Homo sapiens: one gene and its partner. The protein of the gene in region 2 interacts with the protein of the main gene of each other region in a biochemical or structural test. Each region holds a gene or a part of one and is shown on either strand. Other genes may lie near its edges.

Region 1 (7,000 bases), on a different chromosome or scaffold from region 2:
CAGCTCACTGCAATCTCCCCCTCCTGGGTTCAAGTGATTCTCCCACCTCAGCCTCCCAAGTAGCTGGGATTACAGGTGCCTGCCAGCACACCCAGCTAATTTTTTGTATTTTTAGTAGAGACAGGGTTTCACTATGTTGACCAGGCTGGTCTAAAACTCCTGACCTCATGATCTGCCCACCTCAGCCTCCTAAAGTGCTGAGATTACAGGCGTGAGCCACCGGGCCCAGCCGACAACCTGATTTTTTTAAGTGGTAACAAATTTTAACAGACACTTCATCAAAGCAGATATACAGATGGCAAATAAGTACATGAAAATATGCTTAGGCCGGGCGCGGTAGCTTACGCCTGCAATCCCAGCACTTTGGGAGGCTGAGACGGGCGGATCACAAGGTCAGCAGATCGAGACCATCCTGGCTAACACAGTGAAACCCCGTCTCTACTAAAAATACAAAAAATTATCCAGGTGTGGTGGCGGGTGCCTGTAGTCCCAGCTACTCAGGAGGCTGAGGCAGGAGAATGGCGTGAACCTGGGAGGCAAAGGTTGCAGTGAGCCGAGATCATGCCATTGCACTCCAGCCTGGGCGACAGAGCAAGACTCCGTCTCAAAAAAAAAAAAAACGAACAAACAAGCATTATCTAGAAATTCCACTTGTAGGTATCTACTCCAGAAAAAGTCTCACTGTGTACATAAACATTATGTGCAGTATCATTTGTAATAGGTAAAATGTGGGAACAACTTATATCTACCAATGGGAGAATGGATAAATAGAATTACTGTATATTCACATATTGGAATTCCATATAGTAGTGAAAGTAAATAAAGTAGAAGTACATGTAACAAGCCAGTAAATCTTAAAAATGTATTAATTATAAACACTGCAGGCTGGGTGTGGTGGCTCAGGCCTATAATCCCAGTACTTTGGGAGGCCAAGGCGGGCAGATAAAGAGGTCAGGAAATTGAGACCATCCTGGCCAACATGATGAAACCCTGTCTCTACTAAAAATACAAAAATTAGACAGGCATGGTGGCACGTGCCCACAGTCCCAGCTACTCCAGAGGCTGAGGCAGGAGAATCGCTCAAACCCGGGAGGCGGAGGCTGCAGTGAGCCAAGATCGCGCCACTGCACTTCAGCCTGGGCGACAACTCAAAAACAACAACAACAACATTGCAAAAGAAGAAGATGTTATTTTTATATTTTAAGACACACAAAAATGCAAAGTATTGATTACAGATGTAAACTATGTAATCCTCATATATTAATATAAACAACGATAGAAGAATACCAACTTCAAGACAGTAATTACCTTCTGGTAAAGGAATGCTGGTAACGGAAGGAGCTCCACGTATTTCTGGCAAAATCTCTACCTCTCTTTGTCCCAAAACAATCACTCCCTCAATTCCGTATTTTTGCCTAAGGAATCATTAAAACTAATCACATCATGCTGTACATGGCTACTTACCTCAGTCACTACAAAAAGCCTAAAATACTCTGGTCATTATTCATAACCTGCAGACTTATTCCTTGCATCTGGGTACAGCACCTCGTCTGACTCCATTTTCCACCCTTCTAATCAGCGCCATTATATTCTCTGACACTTTCATCAGCAAAATCCCCTATATTCTCAAACTCTTCTCTGAATGTTCCCATCTTTTTCTTTAACTGAAACCTGGTTCTCTCCCAGGGATCCTCCTGCAACCCTCTGAAATAGCAGCTGTTTTCTCTCCCATAACCCTCATACCACCAGGCCTACAGGTGGGGAAGCTTATGCCTTTATACTATGTCACCTGCTACCATTGCTGGTTGTCCATTAAACCCCAGGTCACTTCCCTTATTTTTAAAAAATACCAGTACCTTGTTCACTGTCTCTCCAGTGCAATCCCAGTAATAAGTATTGGTGATTTTAATATCCATACAGATGGTATCTCTAAACCTCTGACCTCTTCATTCCTCGACCTCCTCTTCTCCAATGATGCCATCCTCCCTACAATGATCACCCACTGCCACAGCCTATCAGTAACAGCATCCCTTTCTAATTTCATTCCCAAGCACTCACACTCCTGACTCCAAACTTCTTTCACTCTCTCTTGACCTACAATCCACTGGTTCTACCAACTTTTTGCTGTCCCTGTCAGCCCGTTCTTGCTTCCCTCCTAACCGAAGATTCCACAGTCGATGTTCCAACCACTCAACTTTTTTGCTTCTCCCTCTGTTCACTAACCTGGCAAAACTTCAATCCTGATTAAATCCTATCTCTAAGCCTTCAGTGCTTTAACCTGCAGGCTGTAGCTGGAGAAAAACATTCACCATGTAGCTGGAGAAAAACATTGGTAATACTTTAAATTCATAAGCACTAACTTCAACAGGCTATTAGTCCTATCGAACAATCCTACATTTCCCTAATCCATTTCCTAGAAGACAATTTCATATCTTCTTTTCTTAATATAAACCTCTGTGCTACAGGCTTCAAAAGTTTGTCCTCATCCTTTTTCTTTCTTACTCTGCTTCCTTTTCTCCACTACATGTCCAGCTTTTCTTCCCAACTGCCAGCCCTCTGAGTAACAGCAGCCTTGGGAAGACACCTGGCTGCAAAAACAAAGCCACAAAAGAGGCAATAGCCTTCCATGACTTATGTAACAGCCTCCCTCTGAACCCTACTCCAGCAGCTCAACCTGCCTAGTTTTCTAGTCTAATTCCTCTAATAAACACCTAATTCCACAATACTCATAGTGGTTCTGTTTCCCTGTCTGAACCCTGAATTTCTGCTACAGGAAGTGGTTAAAAGAAGTCCTTAAAGATATGAACCTGAAGTTGCTTCTCTGATTTGATTGAAGGTATTAATGACCAGTTTCCAATGGTAAAGGGGCTACTAGTAGTCCACAGCATGCAGTGGCAAAATATTTAAAATCATCATCTGCAGACAAGGACCTACAGAAGACAAAGCCTTGGGTAACTAACTAGTGGATGCCATAGAAGATTTTAGTAAAAATAAGTTGTATAATGGGTTAATTAGTTGTTTCTAGGTACACTGGATAATTCTTTTCTCAGGAAAAGAAAATGATGAGCTCGGAGTTTTAAAAGCACTACTCAAATCTGGGTAAGGGGGCCAGAAATCTATAACTGCCTTCATAGAAAGCCTTATATCATGTGGCTACAGGGCTGAGACTTCTACAAAGTATATCCTGCAGGTGGCTCAGTTACAATGCAAATTGAATTCACACTCTTGCAGGACATCTTATGTTAAAGTTAGGACCTTGACTGGCAAGGAATGGGGCCCTGAAAAGTAGAATGAAGATATATGGACAGACTCTGATGAAGCCAAGTACCCCGAACTCCTAAATTCTGTGACATCTTCTGCTAGTAGAAGCATCAGTCCTTTATCCCATATGTGAGGAAATTAGTCTTCCTTTGCCTGTAGAGTATATAATGGCCTCCCCTGAAACAGCTGCCTTACAGGGGACTGCTGATCTTCCTGAAGATCTACTCCTAAAACCTCTCATTATTTAGATCCATAACAAGACTCAAATCTCAAGAGGTTCTGGGGGTTGACACAAAATGTGACATGTGATGATATGCAATACATACCAAAAAACTGCAGGATTTGGCCAATTTATGTTAATGGAAAGCTGGAAAATACATATCCCAGAATTACCTTCCCTGTATGGTTCTGCCTTAGAGCTAGGCAAAAGAAAAATGTACACAACACTTAGAAGACAGACAAAAAGCAGCAGCTGTATGTTCTGAAGGTCAGGGTGGCCTAAGGTAATGAGAGGCAGGTTTAGTTTGTACTCATTTTTCTTTTTCCTTATTCTATTCCTTATTCCCCTTCCCCACTCCACATCCAGCTCTTCTTCTCAACTGCCAGCACTGCTGACTAACAGCAATCCCAGGCCCACCAGAAACTTGACTAAGAACTGACAAATGTGGTAGCTATGTGCACTGACTTCTTTATCAGTCCACCTTCACAGTGTCATGCCAGAAGCTAGGTATTAACAGTCTTTATGACTTCACGGTAGATCTGCAGGGAAAAGTTTTACACTGCATACTTTAATTCTTCCATTTTCACGTCTTATAATGAATATTTATAAGTTTTATAAGCAGTTAAATAATTTAAAACATTTCAAGCAATGCTCCCTAATTTAGAACACTCTTAGTTCCCTGGGGAAAATAAATAAAAGGAGGTTTTTCATCGTAAAAAAAATTTAAAAAGACTTACATCATTAGATTGAAACAATCGCGTCATTGCAAAGAAGGCTTCTGTAGCTTCCGTTGTTCCAAAGTGTTCACCCTAAGTAAAATTTAAAACAATTTTTAAATTTTAAAAAGTGTATATTCATATATATGTACATATACACACACAGGATTTTCTATTTCTGCAAAAATCCTTTAGAACTCAAGAAAAAAGAATCTCTTTGTAAACATTCTGCCTCTGCAATTTTTCTGGCTTTCAATGCATAAACCCACATAGCCATTTATCCCCCCTTATTTAAAATAATTCAGTATCGCATACCATGCTTAAAAGTTCTGGCATAGTGATCTCTAAACTTTTAGTAGAAAGTATCTGAAATTTTCCTGAAGTATTGTAGTTTACAAGGAGGGAGAAAATTACAGCACTCACAATAGGACATTATTATTACACTGCCTAAGAGCAGAGATCATATCTATAATGCCCAGCACAATGCCTAACATGTCATGGGAGCATAATAAATATTAAAATATAAGGAACTATCTATTCAGAATCTCAGCAAAATGGCAAGAAGGGGACCAACCAAAAGGGCAGGAACCAGATTCATCATATTAAAAAACTAGGCTTAAGGGGCTGCTATGTAGCTCAATATTGGTTCAAGCCCCTAAAAACATGCTTTGGATCAGAGCTTCAAACAGTTTAATGAGCATGACAATTCATCCTGGGATCTTGCCAAAATGCAGATTCTGATTCAGTGGCTCTGGGGTAAAGCCTGAGATTTTGCATTTCTTTTCTTTTTTTTTTTTTTTTTTTTTTTTTTGAGACGGAGTCTCACCCTGTTGCTCAGGTTGGAGTGCAATGGCGCAATCTTGGCTCACTGCAACCTCCACCTCCTGGGTTCAAGTGATTCTCCTGCCTCAGCCTCCCAAGTAGCTGTGATTACAGGTGTGCACCACCACGCCCAACTAATTTTTTGTTATCTTTAGTAGAGACGGGGTTTCACCATGTTGGCCAGGCTGGTCTTGAACTCCTGACCTCGTGATCCACCTGCCTCGGCCTCCCAAAGTGCTGGGATTACAGGCTTGAGCCACTGCGCCTGGCCTGAGATTTGGCATTTCTAACAAGTGATGCAAATGCTGATCTGGGAACTACATTTTCTGAGCAGTGAAAAAGTGTTAGATAACGTATTTCAAAACATCTCAAATCATAGATTACCTCAAATATTACCATTTCAATATTTAATGTCTTCACTAAAAGCAATCTTATATAATACGTTACACTCAATCACTTTTCAGAGCTTCAGATTCCACATAAAATATAACTAGTCTTCAATCTATTTGCCATAGGTATAAGAATAAATTTTGGTGAAAAATACTGACAGTTTAGGATAAAAGACAAAGTACAATAAGTTTATACTTACTTAAATCAGTGTATCCAGCCTGCTCATCAGCATGAGATTTATCTTTCTTTCACAACTATTTACTGAATACCCAGAAGTCTGTGTGCTTTTTAGTTATACAGGAAAACCTTACATCCTACTTTTTTACTTGAAACTCAGAAAACACATGGATATGTCAACTCTCATAGAAATTCAAAAGTATCTTTCTATAAAGCTCTACCAAGTTCTAGGCAAAGAGATAAAATTTATGTTCCCAAACCTGTTTATATAGTTAATTGTGTTTATGCTGTGCTTGGTAATTTCCTTATCAAGATAATTAAATGTTTCAACATGAGTTGCCTCATTGAAGAGGTAATGACCAACATAAAAATACATGTTACTCTCAATCAACTTTGACTATTCAAAACTTTTGTTTATACAATGGATTTGGCCAACTTAGACACAATGTGTGCTATGAAAAGTTAAACCCAATTGACTATGCTTTAAATGTTTCTCATATGCTGACACAGAGGGATTATGTTGTTTGTGAACAGATATATTTTATTTAAAACTATGTGTTTGATGATCAGGCACAGTAGCTCACACCTGTAATCCCAGGACTTTGGGAAGCTGAGGTGGGCGGATCACCTAAGGTCAGGAGTTTGAGACCCACCTGGCCAATATGGTGAAACCCCGTCTCTACTAAAAATATAAAAATTAGCCAGGCGTGGTGGTGCATGCCTGTAATCCCAGCTACTCAGGAGGCTAAAGTAGGAGAATTGCTTGAACCAGGGAGGTGGAGGTTGTAGTGAGCCGAGATTGCGCCACTGCACTCCAGCCTGGTAACAGAGCGAGACTCCATCTCAAAAAATAAAAAAAATCTATGTGCTTGTTGCTTAGTCTTCATTTGTAAACAAGAAAACTTTATTAAATCTCTGAGTGAGGTCTTCAGTCACAAAACAAAGTAAAGATAATATATTCTCTTAGAATTCAAATTGGAAACCATGGTTATCTTAGCACCATATGTAAACCACCTGAGGTATATGGTATATATGTATGTTTTATGTGTCCGTCTGTATGTGTATAGACATATATAGTCAGCCCTCCATAACCATGAGTTCTGAATCTGTGGATTCAACCAGGCTCAGATTGAAAATATTCAAGGAAAAAAAAAACTATGTTTGTACTGAACACGTACAGATGGTTTTTTGTCATTATTCCCTAAACAATACAGCACAACAACTATTTACACAGCACTAACATTGCACCAGGTATTGTAATCTAGAGATTATAGTCTAAGTATTATAATCACAGAGACAACTTATATATGGGAGGATATGTGTAGGTTATATGCAAATACTACACCATTTGTATGAGGGACTTGAGCATCTATGGACTTTAGTATCCAATGGAGGTCCTGGAACCAATTCCCCA
Region 2 (7,229 bases):
TATTTATTATATCATAAATTAAAAATATCCATATATACAATAAATAAATAGAACCAATATCAACAAAACATCTCTCAATTCTGGAAAAAAATTTCTCACTCCTACTGTAAGCCTCAATTAATGTTTTAGAAATAATTTATGAAGGCATGCACCTACCTTTACAATCTGAAAACTTTGCTGGGAACAGTGTTAGCACCTGTTTGTATACAGCAAACTCAACCCATCTCATTTTCTTCCCAGAAAAATTTGATTTTAAGTGAAGCTGTTCACTGTTGATTCTTTGCCCTATTTGGTAAATCCTAAGATAAGAATAAATTTCTAAAAACAATTCTGAAGCCAAAGACATGTCCCTTATGGCTCCCCATGTTTGTAGTGTCCCTGTTTGATTGACTATGAACAACACAGAAAATACACTGGAATGTATTTGGAAACGGAGTTAATTGTGTGTTGGAAAGCAGCAGAGGGCTCTCCTGACACCTCAGAGTCTCACCGTACCTTAGTTTCTTAATAGCAAGCCCCAGAGCAATCTCCTCTAGCTTTTGGGATGAGCATGTGTGGCAGGATTCATCTGCGAGTTCAGGTTGGGTGCTGACCGTTTTGTGTGATGGGTTGGATCTTCTCCAGAGAGACGTCAGTGTCATAGTCCAATATGACTGATAGGGCTGGGGACAGCTTCTCCAAGGGTCTGGCGATGCCAGCTGCCTCCTCCTTTTTCAGGTCCTCAGAGGAGCCCACAGCATGTGGGATCAGGTAAACCAGATTGCACTCCTTGGAGATGGAGCCTCGTGGCTCATGATGGCTGGAAAACATCGCGGCCCCATTGTTATTGATACTCACCGTCTCTATGGCATTATTCGTCGCAGGGCAAAGTCTGTAGCATCCTAAGAGGGTTGAAAATGCCTTCCGAAAATCAGCATTAAAGGCATAAATGATGGGGTTCAAGGATGAATTAGCCCACCCAAACCACACAAACACGTCAAAGGTGTTGGAATCAATGCAGAAGGGCTGCGTCTCCCCAGACCCACAGAAGGGCAAAATGCAGTTCAAGATGAAGAAAGGTAGCCAACAGCACACAAACACACCCATGATCACCGACAGAGTCTTCAGGACTTTAGTTTCTCTTTTGAAGGACATCTTAAAAGAACTTTCCGGTTGAGAACATTCGACAGGCTTTCCATTACCTGTGGTGGTCTGGCAATTCTTGGCGTGGACTGCTGCCCTCTCCAAGGCCGCAATGCGCCGTATTTGTTTCTGAGCAATCCTGTAGATCCTGGTGTAGGTGACAATCATGATGGCCACAGGGATGTAAAAGCTTATTACAGAGGATGAGATGGCATATGTCCTGCTGAGGCTGGAGTCACAGTTGTCTATGGTCTCAGCCAGGGAAGTGGCATTTCCATCAGAGGGGCTTGTGGGTTTTGCCTTGTGCCAGCTGAGCTGCACTGGGATGAAGGAGATGAGTACAGACAAGGTCCATGCCACACTGATCAGGATGAAGGCTGCCTTGGGGGTCATCTTTCTCTCATACCGGAAAGGGCTGGAGATAGCCCAATACCTGTCCACGCTGATCACACAGAGGTTGAGGATGGATGCAGTGGAGCACATGATGTCAAAGGCCACCCAGATGTTACAGAAGGACCCAAAGGGCCAGAAGCCAGCAATCTCAGCCACTGCCTTCCAGGGCATGACCAGGACGGCCACCAAGAGATCTGACACAGCCAAGGAGATGACAAAGAAGTTGGTCACCTTGGACCGCAGGTGTCGGAACCTGATAACGGCAGCACAGACCAGCGTGTTCCCCAGGAGCGTGGACAGGATGAGCAGCGACAGGAAACAGGCAGTGAGGATACGAACAGAGAAGTCCCTCTCCACCACCAGCCCAGTCCCGTCCATGGCAGAGGTGTTCAGAGTCCTCATCTTCCTAAGAGAAAGCACATCAGGGGCTCTGACACCCCTCAAGTTCCCAAGCAGGGAATAGGGGTCAGTCAGATTTCCAGGAGTCCTCCCCACCAGGCAGCACTTTGCACAGCCAGATTGCTTCCCTGGCAGAGGGCCTCACCAACATTCCATGAGAGGACCGCTTGAGTGGCAATCCAAGTCAATCCCGTGGATGGTCACTCTTGATTTCTACATCTGTCTTCTGACTCCCTTGCTGCAGGTCACTGTCTTGGGCACCAGAAAGCCCCTGAATTCCCCAAATAAAGCACTGGCTTTTTAGCATATTCTAAATCATCAATCCAGTGACTCCTGGGCCTCTGCTCTGCTAGTCAGTTGCAATCACATTTCGGGGCTGTTGCTTTTCTGGTGGTGACAGGAGATTCTCCCCTTCTGAGACTCAGCTGAAAATACATGTCTTCTCGCTCCTCCAAGCCCCTGGCTCCTCAGCAGCTCTCCAAACGCCTTAAAAAGCAAAAGGAAAACACACGGTCTTTCTCCAAGACTTAAGCAGATGGCATCATTACTCACGTCAAGCCCAACCTAATAATTCCCAGGGCGAGCCCGTCCGAGCCACCTACCTTGCCTTGGGGTCGTCTCTCTCAAAGCCCCTGGAGCTTGGAATGTGGACTTCGCTGGGGGCAGCGGCTCCGAAACGTTGAGGAAGCGCGCCTGAGCCCAGCCAGCTGCGCGCAGCAGGGGTTCGGCTCCCGGTGCGCAAAAATCGCCGGGGTGCGTTTGGGGAAAGGATCCCAGGCCAGGTCCCAAGAGAGGCGGCGGCAGCCCACTTCCTTGAAGAGCTGGAGATTGTTCAAAGGGCACTAGACCCCGGCTAAGGGCTCCTGGGCGCTCGGAGCTTCCTTGGGAGAGAGCACTCCCAGGACTGGTCACCTGGGCAGCTTCTTTTCTTGGCTTCCTTTCGAGAGCCCAGAGCCTTGGCGAACCTCGGGCGGCCTTCAGCCCTACAGAGCAGGGCCCCGCGCCTCCCCGCAGGCACTGCCCGCGACCTCTCAGGAGCCTGTGGCAATGCGAGGCAGCGAGCCGAGCTGGCACCAGCAAGCGCACAGGCCGGCGGGGTTCCCGCGGGGCACAGCCCACCCCGCCCGCGCGTCCCCTCCCCTGCCCTGGGGGCGGTCCTCGCTTGACAGGCAGAGTTGCGGGCGACAGCCGCACGTGGTCCCCCTGGATGGTTCTGCGGGCGAGGTGGGCGGAGGACGCCCCGGTGAGTGCTTGCCCTCCCTGGTTACCTCGCCAGTCTCCGGATCCCCGCGCAGCACGCGCAGGGCCCGCGAGGCAAATCCAATGTCAGAACCTCAAGTAAGCTTGAGTCCCCTGAAAGCAAAGCTCAGCCCCGACATCCAGCGCCTCTTGGGGTCAACCCCTAGCCGGACCCAAAGCCCTAAGCGAGCGGGAGCACCCCCCATTCCCCGCACACCAACTCCTAGAACGGCCGGCGGACGTCCGACCTGCGTTGTCTCCAAGTGTCCCCTAACTAGGGTTGGAGATGCCCGTGGGCGCCTGTACTCACCGCTCGCAGGGAGGGCGCGGCGCAGCTGGGATCCGGGCCAGCGCGCGCCGCTGCGCCCCGAGGGGACTCACTCCTTCCCCGCCCAGGTGGCGGGCGCGTCCCGGCTGCGGTCAACGCCGGACTCCAGCCGGTGCCCCGCACCTCCCGAGCGCCCCAACCCCAGCGCCGCGCGCTCCGTGTGCCCGGGGCGCCCTCTGCCGGCGGCTGCGACTTCCCGAGCGCCCGCTGTGCCCTCGCGGGCACCAACCTCACTCACAAGGGTTCCAGCGACCGCCAGGGACCCGCGCCCCGACTCGCTCTTCCCGGTCCATGACTGCCAGAACCTGAAAACAGGGAAGCGGAATCTTCTCCACTCAGGACTCCTCCGCTTGAAACACCCTGAAAAACGGACAAGGGTGAAAAATTTTACTTTGCTGGCATTGCATTCGTGAATCTATGTTTCCTCCTGCGCGCCCACTGCGTTCAAACCTGGGGCGCTAGAGCAGGCGAGACGCAAGCCTTACTCTCAAAGAGAACGGCAGAGCGGGCATTGACTCAGCAGCATCCGTGTTCCCCGGTGCACGCCTTACGTTGTTCCCCCGTTAAAAGAATCTTTCCCCGCCAGGCCGGCTCAACCCGCTTCGCCCAGGTGGAAATGCGGCTCGGAAAGGTAGTGGGGCCTGCTCAAAGTCACACAGCTCACGCGGGAGCCGCGCCGCTGCCCACCTGTTCTTTTAACTCACCGCATGTGGTACAGGAGCCCACAAACTGGAAAATTACCTACAGGGCTAAAATACAGGGAAGAGTCATATGGAGGCAGCGGGGCCTGGTGGAGAAGGAGCCCCCAGCCTCCCCTGGTTGCCCCAGGCAAGCTCACAGGTGAGACTTTGCACTAATTGTGCATAAATTGCGACACTGTGGTGCCTTCCTGTGCCTTCCGAAAGGTGGGAGGAGAATAAGCATGGATCCCCCAAGTCACACTGCCTGACTTCCTGGTCCTGCCCTGCCACTGTCGGCTGCATGTGCACTCTCTCCTCTCTGAGCTCGGGTTCTTCCTCTGTGAAACGGTGAGGACATAACAGGATTGTCATAACTATTAACTGAGACGGTGTTTCCAGAGGGCTTGGCACCAAACCTAGGACCCCGTCAGCCCTCCATAGGCAGGAACCCCTGGGACCCATTAACAAACCAACAGTCCAGGCCAAGCGCGGTGGCTCACGCCTGTAATCCCAGCACTTTGGGAGGCCGAGGAGGGCGGATCATGAGGTCAGGAGATCGAGACCATCCTGGCTAAAACGGCAAAAATACAAAACAAAATTAGCCGGGCGTGGTGGCAGGCACCTGTAGTCCCAGCTACTCGGGAGGCTGAGGCAGGAGAATGGCGTGAACCCGGTAGACGGAGCTTGCAGTGAGCCGAGATCGCGCCACTGCACCCCAGCCTGGGCGACAGAGCGAGACCCCGTCTCAAAAAAAAAAAAAAAAAAAAACTAACAGTCCAATCTCCACAACAGCCATGCACCATATCAGAAGCAAGAATTTTCTCTGGGAAAAAAAAAAAAAACCCTAAACCAAAGTAATAATTCCATTTAGTTCGCCAGCACAAACTGTACTTTGGTTGTTTGTTTATTTAGAGACAGAGTCTTGCTCTGTCGCCCAGGCTGGAGTGTAATGGTGCTATCTTAGCTCACTGCAACCTCCGTCTCCAGGGTTCAAGCGCTTCTCCTGCCTCAGCCGCCCAAGTAGCTGGGATTACAGATGTCTGCCACCACATCCGGCTAATTTTTTGTATTTTTAGTAGAGATGGGGTTTCACCATGTTGGCCAGCCTGGTCTTGAACTCCTGACCTCAGGTGATCCACCGGCCTTGGCCTCCCCAAGTGCTGGGATTACAAGCGTGAGCCATCGCGCCCGGCCTTTGGCACCTTGGCTTAAGATGAAAGGACCATATTGCTGGCACAGACCCTCCGGTGCCTGTGCTTACAGCTGTCTCCTCCCACCCATGGCCTCGCCGTCACACACAGCGTCCAACAGACTGGGGGTCAGAGACGCAATTGTTGCCACACACATTCCCCAAGAACTGCATTTCTGTAGAGCCCTAAGTCACGCTTAACGTAACACTTTCAGATCACTTTCCCCAAGGCCGTCATTCTCCAAACTTCTTGACTTTGTTTCATTTTCTTTCTTTCCCTTTTACTAATAAACACAAATTAAAGATATGTTTCTGGTTCGAGACTTGTCATGTAAGCCTGAGCATTTAACTCCTGACATTCTACCCTGGCATCTGCAATTTTCCACTGAAACTACCCAGAAATAAAATAGGTAGGAGAAATTCAGCATTAACCTTGGAAAGCAGGAACGGGTAGGATCCTGATCTGTGGGATAATGAGCCAGTGGAATTGGACTGGGCAAAGCAGGACTCCATAGGAATATTCCATATGGCAAGAAAATGTACTTCAGGAAGTAACCTCAAAAGAACACACTACCTGCCCTGCCACCCCAAAATCGAGATAGCAGACTCTGGAGGTAAGGATAAGGCCAATTTGAGGGATAAAATTTCTGTCTAATGACTGCCTTTCAGAAGTGCCCCCAATTCCCAAGTCTTCTCAGAGCCAACAACAATGCCACTGCTCTTGTAATTAAAAAACAAGGATGACAAACACAGCACAACACCTGGGCTTCAGGTGGTATCATGCTCAAGAAAACAGCAGTTTAACAGTGGGAAAATATTTGACACAACATTTAAATATTAATCAAAATTTTGTTCAAAGGAACATTCATAACATACTTCATATTCTCATTTCTCTCAAGCCCACCAGCTGCTCAAAAAACCTTTTTGTTTTGCTTGAAAAATCACCTAAATTATTTCAAACTAGCCCATACTGACCTTTATCTTTTTCTCTCAACCCATTTATCTGACAAGTCCAGGTGATCAAATCAACACATACCATTTTGGTAGTGATTGAGAGCTATTTCTTGACCACAAGTAAATTTCTGTCATTTCAATATTAAATCTCCTCCCTACCCATATGCTATGGTTTGAATGTCTCTGCCAAAACTCATGTTGAAATTTAATTGCCATTGTGACAGGATTAAGAGTTGGGACCTTTAAGAGGTGATTAGGCCAAAGGGTTCTGCCCTCCTGGGTGGACTAATGCCATTATCTCGTTATCTCTGGAGTGGGTTAGTTACTGCTGGAGAGAGCTCCTGATAAAAGGATAAGTTCAGCCTCCATTCCCTCCCTGCCTCTTGTGTAGTCTCTTCTTCTGCCAAGTTATGATGCCACCCCACGATCTGAGACTTCCCAGCCTCCAGGAACTATGAGCCAAATAAACTTACATTGTTTATAATTTACCCAGTTGGTGGTATTCTGTTACAGTAGCAGAAAACAGACTAGACATCATAACATACAAAAAAGGCTCAGAAACCCAGCCAGCAAAGCAAAAACGACTAACAGGTAGAGAAGGAGAGAACCTGAGAATAACCAAGGAGGTGATTTTGTTTAAGATCACCAGGAAAACCAGAGGGTTGGACCAGTTTGTCTATCATTCTATAACTCACTGCCTGAGATTCCTTCCTAACAGACATAGGTCACTGGCTTTTGAACGTCATTGCTGAGAGAACAGGAAAGAGTAAAATGGAGCTGAAATCTCAGTGTTTCACTTTGCACAGAGTGTGAATTTCAGAGGAACTTACAGTTTTGCTAGAGGTTTGGAGTTTTTCCTATTTTCTTATTTGAAGCTACGGTGAAACAAAGCCTTCTATTTTGTTCTATAAAAATCTCCCCCACA

The links. The genes of interacting proteins can lie anywhere in the genome.
Region 1: the proteins of DRD1 (region 2) and COPG2 form a complex in vitro, tested with the Homo sapiens proteins (one study listed by BioGRID).

What each region holds. Positions count from the first base shown.
Region 1 is NC_000007.14:130,658,749-130,665,748, forward strand, and holds part of COPG2 (coatomer subunit gamma-2), read right to left. Parts: intron 4,291-7,000; coding exon 4,219-4,290; intron 1-4,218. UniProt on the Homo sapiens protein: The coatomer is a cytosolic protein complex that binds to dilysine motifs and reversibly associates with Golgi non-clathrin-coated vesicles, which further mediate biosynthetic protein transport from the ER, via the Golgi up to the trans Golgi network.
Region 2 is NC_000005.10:175,441,183-175,448,411, forward strand, and holds the start of DRD1 (D(1A) dopamine receptor), read right to left. Parts: upstream 3,001-7,229; 5' UTR 2,517-3,000; intron 2,401-2,516; 5' UTR 1,918-2,400; coding exon 577-1,917; 3' UTR 1-576.